2 separate regions of the Homo sapiens genome follow, and region 1 is linked to region 2. The links come from fine-mapping of genetic effects on gene expression. A gene starts in region 2. The other region holds a variant in brackets. All regions are shown on one strand. Distances are from middle to middle. Region 1 overlaps ELAPOR2 (endosome-lysosome associated apoptosis and autophagy regulator family member 2). Region 2 holds the start of ELAPOR2 (endosome-lysosome associated apoptosis and autophagy regulator family member 2).

What was found. PIP is the estimated chance that this variant, and not a neighbour inherited with it, causes the effect.
Region 1: its variant is fine-mapped to the expression of ELAPOR2 in whole blood (TOPMed, PIP above 0.99). The same link has a PIP of 0.9 or more in blood mononuclear cells.

The regions. Positions count from the first base shown.
Region 1 is chr7:87,029,478-87,039,434 of GRCh38, forward strand. The region is part of intron 1 of ELAPOR2 (endosome-lysosome associated apoptosis and autophagy regulator family member 2); the gene reads right to left. Among named protein-coding and RNA genes, the nearest start is that of ELAPOR2, 25 kb to the right of the region's middle. The variant CA/C (reference allele first, on the strand shown) is at 4,299.
Region 2 is chr7:87,054,184-87,064,140 of GRCh38, forward strand. It overlaps ELAPOR2 (endosome-lysosome associated apoptosis and autophagy regulator family member 2), which reads right to left and starts at 5,471. Exons shown (of 22, transcript NM_001142749.3): 1 at 5,142-5,471. The coding sequence starts at 5,330. RefSeq lists an enhancer at 4,433-4,933 and silencers at 5,199-5,268, 5,359-5,748.

The DNA of each region.
Region 1 (9,957 bases), 25 kb before region 2:
AAAGAAAGGATTGTGCTTTTTCGCAATTCTTTTTATAATTTAAGGAGCCATAAATATTATTTTGGAACTTGATGGAAAACTATGCAATGGAGGTTGGATTTTAGAGTCATTTAAACAAAGGTTGTAGGTAAGACAAGCAGTTGGATAAGTAATGTAAATAATGTAACAATGGTTTTCCATAGGTGTTATGGCAGGTGATTTTCATTCTTGCTTGTTCAAATTATTCAAATGGTTTATAATAAGCATGTTTACAGAAAAATAATGAAAGAAATATGGATAAGATCACTCAGACAGGATATCTACAATGCAAAAAGACAAAAAGCAAAAACCTGGGGCAATCGAGATTTACAAAGAGGTCATAGAAGAGTAGCTAAAGAAATAAGGACATAACAATGAGTGACACAACATTACAGTATAAGAAAGCAGAAGCCTGGAAGTAGAGTCAAATGCCTCAGATGGAATAGGATGAGGATTAAAGACACCACTAATAATTAGATGATTACTAACCATGACAAGAGATTCAGGAAAATAAGTGGGATAAAAGCCTGACTCTAGTGAATTGGAAAGAGAATTGAGGAAATAAAGGTAAACAATCTGATTTTGAAGAGATCAGGAAAACAAAGCCATAGCTGAAAATTTCAGGTTAAGGATTAGCCTGCCTCTGTCATAGAGAGTGCAGAACTCACTACTATGATGCCAAGTAAGTCACATTTATTCTCCCTGTCCTGTTAGGGTGATCACCTACTGCTACAAAAGATGGATTCTAAGACGAGATAAGCCTAAATGGGACATGTCAGTCAGTCACAGTACATACCAATACCTTTTCTCTTCCTGGAACAATATAAGAAAAACATAAGCGTCCTCAAAACTTGCAAAAACACTATTAGTCTAAAAGAATGCTTATCTTGTTCTAAATGCAAACATGTTAGTCAACAGAATTCTCATCAGCTCCCACCAAAAGAAAAAAAAAGAAAGAAAGAAAAAGAAAAAATACAACTAAACCTAGCTATCTTGATGGATTTGTGATTTATGGCATTAAACTGAATTAAGTTTGGCCTAAAGCTGCCACCGTACATATTTTGAGTTTGGCATAATGGTTTCTCCATACATTATGAACTATAACCTAACTTGTGTAAACAGACTGTAATTTCATGAAAAGTAAACCCTTATAACAAGTAGCTGAGTCTCAAATCACAGTAGCTGCAGACAACCAGAGGCTGAAAGCTGCCAGATTACACCCAAAGAAGGTACATGCCAGCTGTACCAATCAAGTACTCTCTGTATGTCATTTCTTATTTTCTCGTTATATAGTCCACCAGGTTTGTAGGTGGGGGTACTCTGTTACCCCATGGTGTTGATGAAGACATACCCAAGACTGGGTAATTTATAAAGAAAAAGAGGTTTAATGGACTCACAGTTCCACATGGCTGGGGAGGCCTCACAATCATGGTGGAAGATGAAAGGCACATTTTACATGGTGGCAGACAAGAGAGAATGAGAGTCAAGTGAAAGGGGTTTCCCCTTATAAAACCATCAGATCGCATGAGACTTATTCACTACCACGAGAACAGTATGGGGAAACCACCCCCATGATTCAATTATCTCCCACCTGGTCCCTCCCACAACATGTGGGAATTATGGGAGCTACAATTCAAGATGGGATTTGGGTGGGGACACAGAAAAACCATATCACCACCTTCATCAGGAATGCTGTCTGGTTCTAGAACTTTTTTCTTGCTCAAATGTTAAATTTAACTCCTCTCAGTTTTTCTTTAACAATAGAAACATAATTTCAATTAGGAATGAATATATTTAATTGTTCATCCAACTGAACACACACAAAGACTGTTTTCATTTCCATACAGTATGTCAATGCTCATTACCATGAACTAAACAAAGTCCTCATTTTAGCCTCTGAATGAGTGGCATGAGATCCACATTTCTCACCTGCACTCCCAGAGACATGCATTCATTAATTGATAGTTAAATGATCTACAGACAGGCAAGTAAGTGAAAATATTAATAGTTCTAACAGCAGGCACATCTAATAGACTAACTGAATGGTTAGCTCCAAAAATCAAGATTTATCAGAACAGCGTTAAATACTGAATGAAACAAAGAATCACCTACAGGAATATCTCAGAATGCCAAAAATCCTTTAGTACTTACACTTACATGTTTAGACTGCTGCGGCTAAATTTTATAAAGAACTTACTGGAGTACTCACTAGTTAGTATTTAATGATCATAGATTACATTATCTTATTGGAGCTTAAGAATATCAAGTGCTATGATTACAACTATATTATGTTAAAAATAGGTATATTAAATAACAAATTGTGTATAGCCATATAGTAGACTACTACTCAGCAGAAAGGAACAAACTTGATACACACCACAATGTGAATAAACCTCAAAAATCATTATGCTAAGTGAAAGAAGACAGCCCCCCACCCAAAAAAGAGTACATGCCATACAATTCCACTTATCTAAAATTCTATAAAATGCAACTGAATCTGTAGTGACAGCAGATCAGTGGCTGCCTAGGGACAGAGTGGAGGAAGGGTTAGATTACAAAGAGAAACAGGAAACTTTTGGGGATGTTGAAAATGACTATCTTGATTATGACAATAGTTTCATGAGTGCTTACATATGTCAAAACTGATCAATTTATATACTTCAAATATATGTATCTGAGTGCACTTCAATTAAGCTTCCATAAAGATTTGTTTAAAGATTGAGGCAATGATTTAACTTCTATATAAAATGTCTGAATATCACTTTAAAGCAGCATCATTTGCTTATGAATGATGAATGAACTAATAACAAATGATTGCTATTAAGTGGGCTAATATCTGTAAAACACTTACAGCAATGCCTGAGCCATATTAACTGATAAGTCTTAAAAGAAAGAGGTGTAAGGAAGAGAACAAAAACAAAAAGATGTAAAATGACAGAATTACACATCAATTTGTCCATCAATTTTTATTCTGAATTTTCTTTGGAATATAGTTTTCCAACAACAGAAAAAGGCCATCTGTTTTTGAAGTTTTACAGATTTCTGGTTTAAGATGACATCAGACTAACAAATCTCACTCTCACCTCTTCACGTACATCCTTCACTCCCAGAAATGTACAGATAAAAACAGAGGCAGAAAATGCCCTAGGTCCAGTACCTATCATGTGCTTCTTCACATAGAAGAACCACAGACAGCTCTGTTTCTTTAAAACATTCTCCTAATCGAGAATCTAATAGACAGAATGAGATCCTCAAAGTTCATCAGCATAGCATAAAAAGGAAGTTTCTCAGACAACAGAAACTGGACTAGGAACTCTGCACAGACATGCTATCAAGACAGGAGGACCAGTGGCTACCTACACACCTTGTGTGTGAGTAAAACACAGCAGTACATAAAGCTTTCCTTGTGAAAATGTGGAATTAACATCTACCTTGGAGGAGACGAAAGATTTCTGAAACACATGAGAAAAGGATCTCTACCTTGAAAAAAAGAAATCATGTGAAAATGATTGGCTACTGGGAAAAACTGTAAATAGCTGCCTGGTACACCTAATAAGATTCGATCAATAGCCTCTAAGAATCAGTCATGGAGAGCTGTAAGCATAATAGATCAGTTCTGTGTAGGCAGAGTGGGAGGTAGTGGAGTTCAGTGGAAAGTGAGCTCTCTGGAGACAAATCTATCCCAGCTTTATGGCTCACTAGCTTTGTCATCTTTTGTAAGTTATTAATTGCCTTTGAGCTTCAGTTTCTTCATCTCTGAAAGCAGAGGCATGGACTTCTGTGAGAAAAGTGTTTCACACATTAACTACTCAATAAATGGAACTTGTTATCAAAAAAATCGAAGATAATTAACTGACAAAACGTTAGAATTAATAAGACAGCCCTGTAAGAAACTAGATACACAATTAATTTCTAAAAACCAGTGGCTTTTCAACATATCAGGGAAAAATCAATTAAAAGGTAAAGTGGTTGGCAGAAAAATGTCATGGAAAATAGTAACATAAAATAGTTCAGAATACAAAGATTGTGCTAGTGAGAAATACAGAATGCCTCAATAAATGCTAAAACAGACTGTATGTCTTTAAATGTGAAGATAATACTAAAAATATGACATTTTTTCCAAATAAATGGGCGAACTTAAGAGAATCCAAAAAAAATTTTTAACTTTTCAAAATTATTCTGAAGTTGAACTGAAAGACTAAATAAGTGAGAACAGCTGAGAATGAAAGAAAATTAAGTGCCACCATATAAAACTATATTATAAAACTCTGCAATCTGTA[CA/C]AAAAAAATCAATAGTGTAGAAAATAGCTCAAAAGAAATTGAATAAATGTGCATATATATAATATAGCACATATTATATATAAAACAATAGCTTATAAATTTTTATATATCCACATACACAATAGATGGTATAGAAAACAGACCAACAGAAAAAGGATGAATTATGGATTGTTCAAAACACTATTTGTAAAAACTGGTTATTCAGGGAACAAAGTCAGAGACATATCAAGTACTTAATAAAATTCTTGAGGAATCAAAATAGGGGAGTAAGTTCATGTCATATTTTTAAATGCCAAAAAACATTACCAAACTATATGTACATAATATTACCATTTTGTAACCATATGTGTACACTGATAATGAAATACATGCAAAGGACTTTTGATATATGTAATAGAGGCAGTATAGTCTGATGGTGAAAAGTATGGGCCCTGGTGTAGCAGCTTGGATTCACAAGTAACTTAAACATGGGGAGAAGATGCGGCGGTTCAAGCTTACCAATTAGAGTTAGGGAGATGAGTGAGTTAATAAATAAAAATGCACTTAAAATTTTACCTGGCTATTGTTATTATTTATTATTCATATTACAAATACTAAGATGTTAAAAGTGGCATGCTTATTTAGTGAGATTATGGGTGTTTTTATTGCTGCATTTTTCTGGAATGCATATATTGCTTTTAACTTTAAAAGGTGACAAATGTAGAAAAAAATGAGATCATTAAAAAAAAACCTCAAGTAAATGATCTTAATATTTATCTGCTCTTTAGATAGGGAAGCACTTTCCTAGCATAACAGGCTCAGATATGTTTAAGCATCAATTATTATTTTGGTTCAAGTTATTTCCTGCTATGCATTATTTATATGCCTAAGAATTATCAAGTAGAAGTCTGCATTACATTTTCAAGGGTCAGTTCTTTCTGCTCTTAACGTTAGGAGGTAGGGTTAAACACCAAAGGGCACTGTGTTTTTACACTGTAGCATTCTTAGAATAAAGTGCTAAGTAAGACAGAATAAGAATGTGTGTGGCCAGGCGCAGTGGCTCACGACTGTAATCCAAGCACTTTGGGAGGCCAAGGCGGCTGGATCACCTAAGGTCAGGAATTCGAGACCAACCTGGCCAACATGGTGAAACCCCGTCTCTACTAAAAATACAAAATTAGCCGGACATGGTGGCGTGTGCCTGTAATCCCAGCTACTCAGGAGGCTGAGGCAGAATTGTTTGAAGCTTGAAGCAGGGAGGCAGAGGTTCCAGTGAGCCAAGATAGCACCACTACACTCCAGCCTGGACAAAAAAGAGTGAAACTCCGTCTCAAAAAAAAAAAAAAAAAATTGTGTGCTAGCTACGACTAATGCATCAAGGTCAAATATTTATCTTCTCACCAGTTACAGTAGGTATGGATATACCCCTGAGCAGTCATTGAACTGCCCCTTAAATCCAGCATAGTGAAATTGTCAAAGTTCAGTAAATTAGAACTCATGGCTCCTACACATGGAACCTAGGTTTGCAATCCATCCAAAGAAGCAGCTCTGCAATTTTCAGAGTATAAAGACAAAGCTCATGGCTTCTGCATATGTAAAACACCTTCTAAGATGAACTAAATTCTGCATCCTTTTGTCTACTACCCGCTAATCCAAATCTTGTCCTCTAAATGAGCATTATAGCAATTATAGCATTATGACTGCACTTAATATATTTGAAGCTCATGTCATGGCCCCCTCAAGTCTACTCTAAGCTAAACAACCCCATTTCCTTTGGTTAGTTTCCCGTGACGTACTTTCCAAATAACTAATCTTCCTAATTCACATCTCAAGCCAATGTCACCCTTTGTCAATATCCCTCTTCAAATATTGCATCTAAGTTGAACTAATGACCTAATATAAATGTCTACCTTCCACAAACAAGGCATTCTTCTCATATAAACAGAACTCAAGACCCTCCATCATTGCTTTTGCAGCCATATGACAGCTATGGCTTCAGAAGTACTTTTAAGTAAAATTTTCCCATTCTATGCTTGAACATCTGATTTTCAGAACCAGAAAAGAACAGTCTACATTTAAATCAATTATGTTGGATTGCCCATTATTCTAGCCTTTTGAAATCATTTTGAATCCCAATTCTGTTTTCCAACTCATTAGGAATCCTTCTCAGCTTTCTGACTTTACAAAATTTGGTTATGCCGTCTCAAAACCCAAGTATTATTTAAAATGGTAATAGTAAAACAGTAAAAGGACAGAAATTAGATATTAAGCACAAAAGTATTGCATTGGAGATGTTCTTTCAGTTTAGCATCACATACATTAATAATCTTAGTATACATTTGTTCAAATAGCCAGGAATCTGCCTAATATTCCGTCATTCATCATATACTATGCATTTTGTCAATAATGATATGACAATTCAAATGTCTCACTGTAGGCCAAGCATGGTGCCTCACACCTGCAATCCCAGTACTTTGGGAGGCTGAGGTGGGATGATTACTTGAGACCAGGAGTTCAAGACCAGCCTGGGCAACAGGGTGAAACCCTGTCTATACAAAATAATAATAATAATACAAAAATTAGCAAGGCATGGAAGCATGTGCCTGTAGTCCCAACTACTCGGGAGGCTGAGGTTGGAGGATCACTGGAGCTCTGGGAGGTCAAAACTATGTGAGCTGTTATTGTACCACTGCACTCCAGCCTGAGTGACAAGGAGACCCTATCTTTAAAAAGGGTTTGCTGAACTATTCACAATAGCAAAGTCATGGAAGCAAGCTAGGTGACCATCATTGGTGGATTAGATAAAGAAAATGTGGTACATATACCCCATGGAATACTATAGAGCCATAAAAAACAACAAAATCATGTATTTTGCATAAACATGGATGTAGCTGGAGGCTATTTTCCTAAGCAAAGTAACACTGGAACAGAAAACCAAATACCGTATGTTCTTACTTATAAATGGCAGCTAAACATTGGGTACTCATGGAATTAAAGATGGCAACAATAGACACTACAGACTATTAGAAAGGAAAGGGAAAAGCAGGGGCAAGGGTTGAAAAACTGTTGGGTACTATGGTCAGTACCTGGGTGATGGGATCATTCATATCCCAAACCTCAGCATCATACAATATGCCCAGATAACAAACGTACAAATGTACCCCAATCTAAAAGTTGAAAAATTAAAATAAGAAAACACCCTGAATATTAAAAATCACCCTGCCTATATCATACTCCAGATTTACGGGTCTCCTTCCCATCAACCTCCAGTCTGCTTCTGTGCTAATGCTAATCCTTCTCTACTGGCTGTACCTTCTCAGTTTCATCCTCAAATGCTTCTCACTCTGCTTGCTTCTTAAATGCTGTTGTTTCCCTAAGCACTCTCCTCAACACAGTGCTCTTGCTATATGCTCAGAGCCTAAGTGACCTCATCAACATCAATGGCTTCAATTACCTCTTATGTACTCATGGCTCCCAAGTTGTCTCTCAGCTGCACTCCTGTACATCCACCTGTCTTCAGGAGAGCACTGTTTGTGTGTGCCCAGGGTACTATAAACTCAGGATGTCCAATGCTGAACTCATCCTATTTCCCGCCCCCACCACCACCTCCTCCTTTTCCTTCTCTCAATTTTTTTATCTCAATAAAAGACAGCAGCATCTACTCAGACCAAAAACTTATAAGTCATGGTAGACTGAAATGTATCACTCGGTTGCAGACTCCTGAAAATAAGATGTCTTTAATAGCTGTAAAATCCATCTATTCTCTCCCTCTCCATTCATACTGTCATGTGTTTAGTTCTGTTAGTTATTTTCTCCCCGTGAGAGAGGCAAGAGTCTCCTAACTGATCTTCCTGCGTCCAATGTGATTTCCCTTTTATGTTCCTTCATTTGCCAACAGAATAATCTTTCTAATTTGATGTTAATAGCGCTTCATAGCTTGCCTCGCAAGACCTTCAGTCTCTGACACTTCTGCCACCACCACCCACGTGCCCTTCAAGTTGGCCCTTGAAATTATAATATTATTTAATTCCTCTTTGATGTTATACATGTTATTTTCTTTGACTGAGATGTGGTGGTCTCTGTGCATCCTGTAAAGCACTACTATAAATCCTTCCAAACTCAGCTGAAACATCACTTGCTCTGACACCAGAGTTTCTTTAGTCTGATTTAGTTGCCTCTTCTCTGTGCTTCTATACAGCCCTGTGAATGACTCCATCACAGCACTTAACCCATCTGTACTATCATCATAGACTATCCTATAATTTTTTCCTGTGAGATACATGCTAGATGAGCTAATAAACATATGAATGGCAACTGAAAAAGAAGTAACAGAGAATGAATAGTCATGAAATATCTAAAACACACTCTTAGAACCAAGAATACCAATCCAAGTGCAAGAATTCTTGGTCACTTTGTAGCTGCTTCCATATTTTTCTCAAACACCTGAAAGCCTTCATATATTGTAATGATTTAATAAGGTATTATGTACCAAACATTCTTTTTGGAAATTAAGATGTATTACAGTTTGATATGTTAAGGGAGGTAATTCCATATACCTTTTTAGGGACTAAATAATTGCTTTCTCTGGATATTACATATCTCAAAACACACAGATAAGAAAAAGTCTAGGGAAATATATATTATCCTTATTATACTAAAAGCTTGTATACATAACGATGCAAACACCTAAATAGGAAATCTCACAAAAAGTGAAATACAAAAAGCTAAGTGACACGAAAAATATTGACCTTCATGAGTGATTAAAGAAATGCACATGTTAGGTCACAAAATAAGTCTTAATACATTCAAAAGACTGAAACAATATCAAGCAGCTTCTCTGGCCACAGTGGAATAAAACTAGAAATTAATAATAAGAGCAATTTTGGAAACTATACAAATACATGAAAATTAAACAATATGCTCCTGAATGACCAGTGGGTCAATGAAGAAATTGAGAAGAAAATTGAAAAATTCCTTGAAACAAATGGTAATGGAAACACAACATACCAAAACTTATGGGATACAACAAAAGCAGTATTAAGAGGGAAGTTTATAGCTATAAGTGTCTACATCAAAAAAGAAAAAAAACTTTAAATAAACAATCTAATGATGTATCTTAATGAACCAGAAAAGCAAGAGCAAACCAAACCCAAAATTAATAGAAAATAATAAAAATCACAGAAATAAATGAAATGAAGAAAATACAAACGATCAATGAAACAAAAAGTTAGTTTTTTGAAAAGTTAAACAAAATTGACAAAACTTTAGCTAGACTAAGAAAAAAAGAAGATACAAATAAATAAAATCAGAAATGAAAAAGAAGACATTACAACTGATACTGCAGAAATGCAAAGGATCATTAGAGGCTACTATGAGTAACTATACGCCAACCAACTGGAAAACCTAAAAGAAGTGGACTAATTCCTAGACTCATACAACCTACCGAGACTAAACCAGGAAGAAGTCCAAAACCTGAACAGACCAATACCAATGAAATCAAAGCCACAATAAAAAGTCTCCCAGTAAAGAAAAGCCTGGGACCCAATGGCTTCACTGCTGAATCCTACCAAACATTTCAAGAAGAACTAATCTCGGTCCAACTCAAGCTATTCTGAAAACCCAAGAGGAGAGAATACTTCCAAACTCATTCTACAAGGCTAATATTACCCTGATACCAAA
Region 2 (9,957 bases):
AAGCAACCAAAATGTGGCTAGTGTTTTCTGACAATAAAGAATTATTATAAGATGCAAGACTCTGCTGGAGAAGACACTATGATAGGAAAACGTGCCACTCTATACTATGCTCTGCTATTTCCATCCCTTGTGCTAAAATATGACACTTCACAGATCTGTCAACTCTTGGTTTTACATTGTAAATATTGATGGTGTGAATACTTGCTCGCATTTGCCTAAAACATGAGAAATGATTCTAAGCATAAGAACTGGAAATGGAAAATTCACCTCCACAGGCATTAACAGGAAAGATTAGTTACGTTAACTGCTTGAAAACAGAGGCTGAGTCCTAACTCCTTCAATAACAGTGTGACTGTAGAACCTTTGACAGCTTCACCCATAGCCCATGGCCTTCAGGGACTTCCTACAGAAAGGATGTTTCTCAGCTGTGCCCATCAAGTTCTGAAACAAAAAACATGACCATTACAGGTCTTGTGGTTTACATGGATTTTGAAGACCCAGTAGCTTACCAAATCTAGGAAGGCTCTATAACACAATTCCACTCCATCACCACCATCTCACCTCCCAGTTAACACTCAACCCATCTCCACCATCCCATAGGAAACACTCTGGTGCTGAGCACCAGTGACCTAATCACAGAATTCAATCTTCTCTCTTCAGTCATCATCTTATTTGGATTTCATCGGGCAACTGACACACAATGAGCCCTATCTTCTTCAAAGGCTTTTCTTTTTCCCACAACTCCACACTCACATTTCTTCTTTACCAGCCATTGCTACATGTCTCCTTTGTGAACTCCTCGGTTTCTGTCCCCTTTCATGTAGGTAAAACCCAAGTCCTATCTTCAGCACTTTGTTCTCACTCCCTGCATGATCTCAACCAATCCAGTCATTTCAACAATGTCTTCCATTCAAGTTATTCCCAGGTCACCACACCAGCCCACACCATGCCCCTGAGGAACAGGGCCTAATAATACCTAACTGCCTACTCAACAGCTCTACATAAAGTCACTCCTTCCAGACAGAACAAGCTCCTTATCCCATCTTCTTCACATTTCTTCTCAGGGAGGTTAAGAGGCACCATCCTCTAATCAAGTTAGAACATTTCATTCTCTCACCCTCTGCATCCACTCACTGCCAATTCTATCTAAAGCATACTACTCCTCTTTTTGAAGTCCTACTACTGCATCCTATTGCCTACCAAATGAAGACCAGCTTCTTAGTGTGATATAAGGTCCCTTATGATAGGCTCCTGCCTGCCTGTCAGATTCATCTCTCATTAAGCTTCTCATTGCATGCTGTACTTCAGTTAGAACCAATTACAATACAATGCTGTTTCATGTTTCTGCCCTTTTTCAATCTGTGCTCTTCACCTGAAATGTCTTTCCCCCAAACTAGCCTACACTCACATCTGACCCTTGTCTGCTTGGCAAATTCCTACTTATCAATTAAGTCTCATTCACTTCCTCCATAGGGCCTTTTCTGATCCCACCCCCCTCAGTAGATATGATGGCCCATTGCTTCTTTCATGGCTTCAAATCACTTAACTGCAATGTTTGTTTACATATCTGTCTCATCCTTATCCAATTAAATTATATTCTTTAAATTACTAATTTCATATCTGACATTTTGTCTAGCACATGGTATAAACTGAATGTGGAACAAAAACTGTTAGCAAAACTCATCATTCAGTAGTCAGGGAGAACAGCAGAATTGCATTATGCAAGATTTTACAGCAGTGAACTAAGAATCAGCTATTTTGTGATTTAATTTACCAAATGTAAATAATACAGACATAATCCAATTAGTTCTGTTCTTTTTACTCTCATGTACTTTTCTATCTTCTGATACCTTACTGCAACTCTGAATTATCTGTTGGCCTTTATATTTTTTTGCTCTGGCAGCCCCATTAAGTCCTATTATTCACTGAGTCAAAAATGTCATGCCAAGTCTTGGATGGGCCTATCCTAGGAACCTCTGGAGTCTCACTGTAGACTCTTCCCAAAATATCAGGATCTAGCTCTACTAATCTAGCAATAATCAGCCCTCATATTTATATTTCTCCTTTATCTTATATTAATCTCATTTCATCCTCATAATACAAATAATTGGTCATGTTTCATTAATAACATTTTATAAGTGAAACACAGGCCAAGAAACCCAAAGAAGATTTACCTTTTATAAGTTCACCCCATACAAAAACCTGAGGAATTCTATACTTTCTGATGTCCAGGCCTCATTTATTTCCTTTGAATACCATTTTCCAAAGTCACATCCTATTCTTGTGCTTCATCTGCCAGCACTTTGACTTTCCTTTTATTTCTGTCTCCCAAATGATCGCTTCCTGTTTGTGCGTGTGCTTCCACACTGCTGATCTGATCACCAGCTGAACATTCCAACACAATAACTTTTCTCCCCCTTTCGACTTCATAATCCAAAGACTTTGACAAAGGAATATGTATTTTATGAGTTTCACCCCAGAGTCCATTCCTCTGCAAAAATCTAAATGTAACTTTTACCCATAACCTAGTTTTTGAAGGGCCTTTTTTCTGAACTCAGGCAATTATAACTGGATGACTCCCAGGCCAGTTCTCTGCATTTGTCTTCCTTTAGTTGCTTTCCTCTAAAACCAGGCAGGAAAATCAGAGTTTATGTAACTTTGTTAAACATGACTACTTCTACAAAAATATTAATAAATGAGGGTGACACAAACTACTGGGGGGAAATGAGGTTCAAAATGGCCTATAGCTTTTTCTATACTCCTCAACATTCTCTCACATTGAGAGTTGGTTTTAGCTCTCAGCCTGAAAATTCCTCACTTTAACTGCCCTCACTCTGTTCCCCACTGCATAGTCTGTCCTTTGTGGCATTTGCCTCCTTTAATGTTAACAAAAAGTGGAAAATGATAAACGAGCAGGAGTGAACACAGAGTAGTTACTTTAACTGTGTCTTTATTCACAGGCGTTTAGCCCACAATCCCATAACTGTATTCAGAGGAAAGGGCTGAGCTCAAGAGGATACCCTTTCCCCACTCCCAGCACAAACATTCCTTTACCTTCAAAGTCTGAAAATAACTTGCCCTCCCCACTTTCCTCTTAAAAACAATGTCAGAGAAAAACAATGACCAATTCTGTAAATTAGCTCCACTGGTTAGACCAGATATCAAACAGATTCAACCCCTGGGAGGTCACTAGGCCTCTTCTACTTCCAAGAACTTCTAACTCCCATTAGTTCCTCTTACTTGTCAGTCATCAGGAAGAACATAAATGGATCTGTGCATTAACATTTATAAAAACATACAGCCAAAGGCAGGCTCAATAGCGTCCTCCTATATATTTTATTTATTCTCATTTTTCAGAAGGAAAATGTAAATTTCAGATCTCAACGGATGAGTCACATGCAATTTCTAAAGCCAATGCAGTAAGGACCTGTGATCAAGTGAACCCAGCCTTCCTGAACCTTCTGTCATCTCTCTGCCCCTCCTTTCAATCTTTGTTTTAGGTTGCAGACTCTTCTTTCTAGGTATACATGTGTAGGACATGTGTTCATCTAAAAGATTAGTCTAGTTGTAGAGACCAAAGGCATCACTTCTATTGACCCTGACCTTCGCCTACTTCAAGCAGATTTTCATTACTAAGAATCGATGTTATCAGAAGCTTAAGACTTTTCAGTTTAGAAAAATATATTCTGCATATTAGAAGTTGGGGGCTGGAGGATAAAGTTTATCTTGTCACAACTGTTCAATCTGAGATGTCCAAGAAGCAGCTTTCTGTGGAAACCTGGAATAATGGATTATTCCCAGGTGATATGTAAAGTTGTAGAATATAGATTAAGCTCATTATACTAAAAAGCCCTAAAATTAAACACAGCTGTTTGTTGAGCTCTTGCCCTGATTTCCCCAATTACAACATTGCTGTGTGTTCGCACACAAGCCTTTGATCCGATTCTCTTTCATTTCAGTCTGTCCTGGGACCTGTACTGTAGGAGAGAAAGACGAAAATCCATAGATGATGGATGATGTGTAGAACACAGATACTCTGTAATTCAAGTCTCGGTAAAATTCAGAAGTTAGAGCAACATACACAAACAAGAGGGTCTGGCCTTTCTTCCCAGAGGGGCTATTGGCTAACCTATTTTTGCTACATTAATTAAAACGACCCATCGCCCTGATTCCTAACAATCTTCCTAAAAACAGTATCTATTCCATATATCCTCCCAACACAATCAAAGTAGGTCAGAAATGTTGCTTCCTTCCCCTCATTGATTTTCATTAAGAGGATGCACTTTCTGAACACTAAATGGAAAGATAAACACCCAATACAAGAACCAATGACACCCCCTGTAAATTTTTGGCACACTGTCTCGTTCTTCTAAAAGCCAGATAAAAATCTCATCTCCCATAGTTTATCCTTTTTGGCTGTAAAACAACAATGATTACAAGCTATAAAATACACCGCGGCAATACTTCAGCCAGGTGATAAAGCACCTCCCAAAAGAAGCATATTCACTGTCTTTTCTAATTTTCTCCATCATCAACCTGCATCTTCTCTACCAAGTACATACTCCTTTTTTTTCCCCCCCAAATTCAAATCCACATTTTGTCAGAAGGATGCTAAGTGACACCATACATTGGCTTAGCAAACCCACAGGGCCTTAATCAGGAAGCTGAGGGCAGGGGAGTAGGACGAAGGCGTTTGCAGAGACAGGGGAGTGGAGACAGGGGGAGGAGGAGCGGGAAATCCTCTGGTGTCTGTGTCTGGCTCTCTGGAAAAGCTGTGATGAGATGGTTCTTCAAATCCCACTGGTGGGGCTTCCCCAGTCTCCTCCCCTTCCTGAAATCTTTCCCTCGACCCCAGGTCCTCAAACCTGGCTGTCCAAAAAGGACGCCGCAAAGTCCTGCAGAGCCCCCAAAAGACACAAGCGCGGACAGAAAAGCATCCCCCGAGAGACAGCGAAGCCACACACCCTCTCCGGGCCAGCTACCAGGGCGGGCAACTTCACCCCTCGAAGCAAACGAAAGCCCCTGTTCTCCAAGCAAAGGAAAAGGGGATGGCAAACAGAAATAAACAGGAACCGCTCTCAGCCTTCATCTTCCGCGCCCTCCCCCAGCAAACTCCAGGTAGAGGACCAGGTGCTGCTCACCTCCTGGCAAGGAGGAAGCGGGCGGCTGGAGGAGGAGGGCAGGTCCCCAGCCCAGGCCGCCTGGCAGCCGGCGAGCGCCCAGCAGCAAATCCAGGCGGGGCTCCAGGGCGGCGAGCGCCCGCGGCGGGGAGCCTCCGCCGGCCGCCCCCAGCCCCTGCCCCGTACCGGCCCCCGGGCGCGGAACAGCATCTTCGTCCGGCCGCGGTCGGCGGGCCGGCGGCAAGGCAGCCTTCCCGGGGTGCGGCGGCAGCTCCGGCTCCCGGGCCGCGACTGCTGTGCGCTCGTCTCGCCGCTCCGTCACCCGCTGCCCGTCCGCCCGCTGACAGCTCTGCTGCGCTCGCGGCCCGGGCAGCCAGCGCCGATGCTCCCGTCACGCCGGAGGGAGGGACCGCGGGGCGCGGGCGCGGCGCGGGGGCGGGACGCGGGGCGGGGACGCTGGAGCTGGGGAGCAGGTGGCGCGGGCGGGGGCTGCGGCCCAGCCCGGCGGGTCCCCAGGGGCTGCGCGGCGCTCGCCTCGCGCTAGAGGGCGAGAGAGGCTGGGGACCCCGTGGAGTAGCCTGTCTCAGGTCCCCGTGGCCCACTGGGAGGGGCGCTCCCGGGATGAAGCCAGAGTAAATACAGGACATCAGGACATTGTTTTCTGGCGGTGGGTCTTTAAAAAGCTCGCCACTTTCCTCATTGCACACAAACACGCAGATGTGCCCTCGGAACATCCCTTGTAAGGATCCATGCTGGCTAGCGTCAGATCGAATTTCTAGTTAGGGTGTGCATGAAATGGCGGGGAAGAAAGAGGACTGAGGTGTAGACGTGGTGTGTGACTCAGTTTTCTCACCTATTTAATGAAAATAATACCCACCACGTAGGATTATTATGAGGATTAAGTAAGTTGATGTACATAAAGCACTTGGAAGAGTGCCTGGCACACAGTAGGTGACATGTGTTGGTAGTAGTAGCCATAATTATTGCTGCTATTGGTGTTATTTTGTGGAGATGTGTAACATTGGGCATTAAGCCCTGTGTTTTCTGGAGGAAACAGTTTCTCCATCTGTGCGATGATTGAGGTGCTCTTCGTTTTTTCTTTCATTCAAAAACATACTGAACTAGGTGATGGTGAACAAGATGGACATAAGGCCTTCCTCAGTGGCAAGGATCTCAAGATCCCTTCTTGATCTCAGATTCTGTAAATGGGTGAGTTATTGTGTTTTTCAAAAGAAGCATCCAAATTTCTGATTATTGAATATCTGGACAAATCCACGTGGCCCACTCATTATAAGTTGGCCTGTGGCACATTTGTTTGTGGCATTATCTCTAATATCCTTTTAACAAAATTTCCACATGAAAGTCTCTGTATATGTGTGTTTGTGTGTATGTATACACATATAGATTTGTGTATCACACCTATATTCTGATTATAACAATATATGTTATTTGTAAACATTTTGGAAAATATTGAAAAGTATCAGGAAGAATATAAAAATAACTAGAGATCCTACCACCCAGAGATAACATTGTTAATGGTATTAACATGTTGAGGAATTTCCTTGCTTTTTTTTTTTTAACTCTGTGTGTACTGCAAAACTGGAATAATAATTTGTAACCTGCTTTTATTTTTATTCTTAATAACATAAATATTTTCTCAAGTCATTAAAGTCTCCAACAACACAACTTTAATAATTGTAAAATATTTTCTACTCTTTAGATACATGTAATTTACTATTAGATATTAGGCATTGTTTAAGGATTCAGTGTTATTAATAATTCTGGAAAGAATGCCCTTGGAACATAATCTGTGTGCATCTTTAAATATTTTATGATAACTTTCTAGAAGTGAAAACATTGGATCACATGATATGTGTATTTTTAAAGTTTTTGACGAATAGTGTACAAATTCCTTCCAAAAAATTTGTAGCAATTGTTACCAGCAGTTTATGAGTATTTATTTCACATCACCCTAGATTATAATACTTCAGATATTTATCATTTTGGTAGAAGAGACAAAAGCTATTATTTTTAAAATGTATTTTTATCATTGGTGACATCGAGTGATTTTTTATATATATCTACTAGCTATTTGCATTTTTCCTTCTCATGTCAGGGTGTGAGAATTTTTCACTGGCACACTTTAGCCATTTTATTGAAGTTCCATTTTTTATTGATTCGTTAGCAATCTTCATAAGCTTTGTGTATGTTTATCATATATCTTACAAATACTTTTTTGTAGTCTTTTAAATTTACTTCTGATAGCTTTTCTGGCAGAAGCTTGTCATCTTTAGGTATTCAAATGTAGCAACATTTTCTTTTGTGATTTCTTCCTTTTTTATATCTAGAAGTACACGTATCTCTGCAAAATCATACAGATGCCTATGTTTTCTTATTTTGTTATATTTTGTTATTATTTCCTTTTTATATGCTTTATTCTTTAATTCATGTGGAATTTTTAGGAGTCAAATTATGTTATGATTTTTGTCATCTGAGAAAGAACTAACAACATGACTATTAAATTGAAAACAGCTTCTTTCCTTATAAAAATAAGAGTCGTCCAGTCAATGCACTTGGATCAAATGACAATTGTAGATTTTCCAGAGTAGGACAACTTGCCACTTTCAATAAATACTTTTCTCATAGTTGTCCCATCCATAAAAAAGATCTTGACCTTGGATAATTAAAATCAGCATAAAGGCTGACAGAGAAAGGAAATTTCAAGAAGACTCTAAGGTCCTCTTCTACCTGTTATTTTAGGATGTAATAGCAAATTATTCAAAGTTTGTGATTATCTGATCAATAAATTTACTCTTAAAGATAGTTTTATAAAAATATACTTTAATAGAAAATTCATAATGAAATTTTTGCAAGAATGGGTTGAAATAGCTTACAATCACTAGGTAATAATCATTTTTCCACTTTATTTGTGCAGTGTATACCTGAAAATTGAACTGAATTTTGTTAAAAAGTCAACAAAAGCCTTAGCTGTATCAACAAAAGCCATAGCCAAAATGATGCTATATAAATAGATTTATTTTCTTTTTTAACTTAAATCAGATTGTGGTATAAATAACCCCAATTTTTATTTATTTTATTTTTATTTTTATTTTTATTATTATACTTTAAGTTTTAGGGTACATGTGCACAATGTGCAGTTTAGTTACATATGTATACATGTGCCATGCTGGTGTGCTGCACCCACTAACTCGTCATCTAGCATTAGGTATATCTCCCAGTGCTATCCCTCCCCCCTCCCCCCACCCCACAACAGGCCCCAGAGTGTGATGTTCCCCTTCCTGTGTCCATGTGTTCTCATTGTTCAATTCCCACCTATGAGTGAGAATATGCGGTGTTTGGTTTTTTGTTCTTGCAATAGTTTACTGAGAATGATGATTTGCAATTTCATCCATGTCCCTACAAAGGACATGAACTCATCATTTTTTATGGCTGCATAGTATTCCATGGTGTATATGTGCCACATTTTCTTAATCCAGTCTATCATTGTTGGGCATTTGGGTTGGTTCCAAGTCTTTGCTATTGTCAATAATGCCGCAATAAACATACGTGTGCATGTGTCTTTATAGCAGCATGATTTATAGTCCTTTGGGTATATACCCAGTAATGGGATGACTGGGTCAAATGGTATTTCTAGTTCTAGATCCCTGAGGAATCGCCACACTGACTTCCACAATGGTTGAACTAGTTTACAGTCCCACCAACAGTGTAAAAGTGTTCCTATTTCTCCACATCCTCTCCAGCACCTGTTGTTTCCTGACTTTTTAATGATTGCCATTCTAACTGGTGTGAGATGGTATCTCATTGTGGTTTTGATTTGCATTTCTCTGATGGCCAGTGATGGTGAGCATTTTTTCATGTGTTTTTTGGCTGCATAAATGTGTTCTTTTGAGAAGTGTCTGTTCATGTCCTTCGCCCACTTTTTGATGGGGTTGTTTGTTTTTTTCTTGTAAATTTGTTTGAGTTCATTGTAGATTCCGGATATTAGCCCTTTGTCAGATGAGTAGGTTGCAAAAATTTTCTCCCATTTTGTAGGTTGCCTGTTCACTCTGATGGTAGTTTCTTTTGCTGTGCGGAAGCTGTTTAGTTTAATTAGATCCCATTTGTCAATTTTGTCTTTTGTTGCCATTGCTTTTGGTGTTTTAGACATGAAGTCCTTGCCCATGCCTATGTCCTGAATGGTAATGCCTAGGTTTTCTTCTAGGGTTTTTATGGTTTTAGGTCTAATGTTTAAGTCTTTAATCCATCTTGAATTAATTTGTGTATAAGATGTAAGGAAGGGATCCAGTTTCAGCTTTCTACGTATGGCTAGCCAGTTTTCCCAGCACCATTTATTAAATAGGGAATCCTTTTCCCCATTGCTTGTTTTTCTCAGGTTTGTCAAAGATCAGATAGTTGTAGATATGCAGCGTTATTTCTGAGGGCTCTGTTCTGTTCCATTGATCTATATCTGTGTTTTGGTACCAGTACCATGCTGTTTTGGTTACTGTAGCCTTGTAGTATAGTTTGAAGTCAGGTAGCGTGATGCCTCCAGCTTTGTTCTTTTGTCTTAGGATTGACTTGGCGATGTGGGCTCTTTTTCGGTTCCATATGAACTTTAAAGTAGTTTTTCCCAATTCTGTGAAGAAAGTCATTGGTAGCTTGATGGGGATGGCATTGAATCTATAAATTACCTTGGGCAGTATGGCCATTTTCACGATATTGATTCTTCCTACCCATGAGCATGGAACGTTCTTCCATTTGTTTGTATCCTCTTTTATTTCATTGAGCAGTGGTTTGTAGTTCTCCTTGAAGAGGTCCTTCACATCCCTTGTAAGTT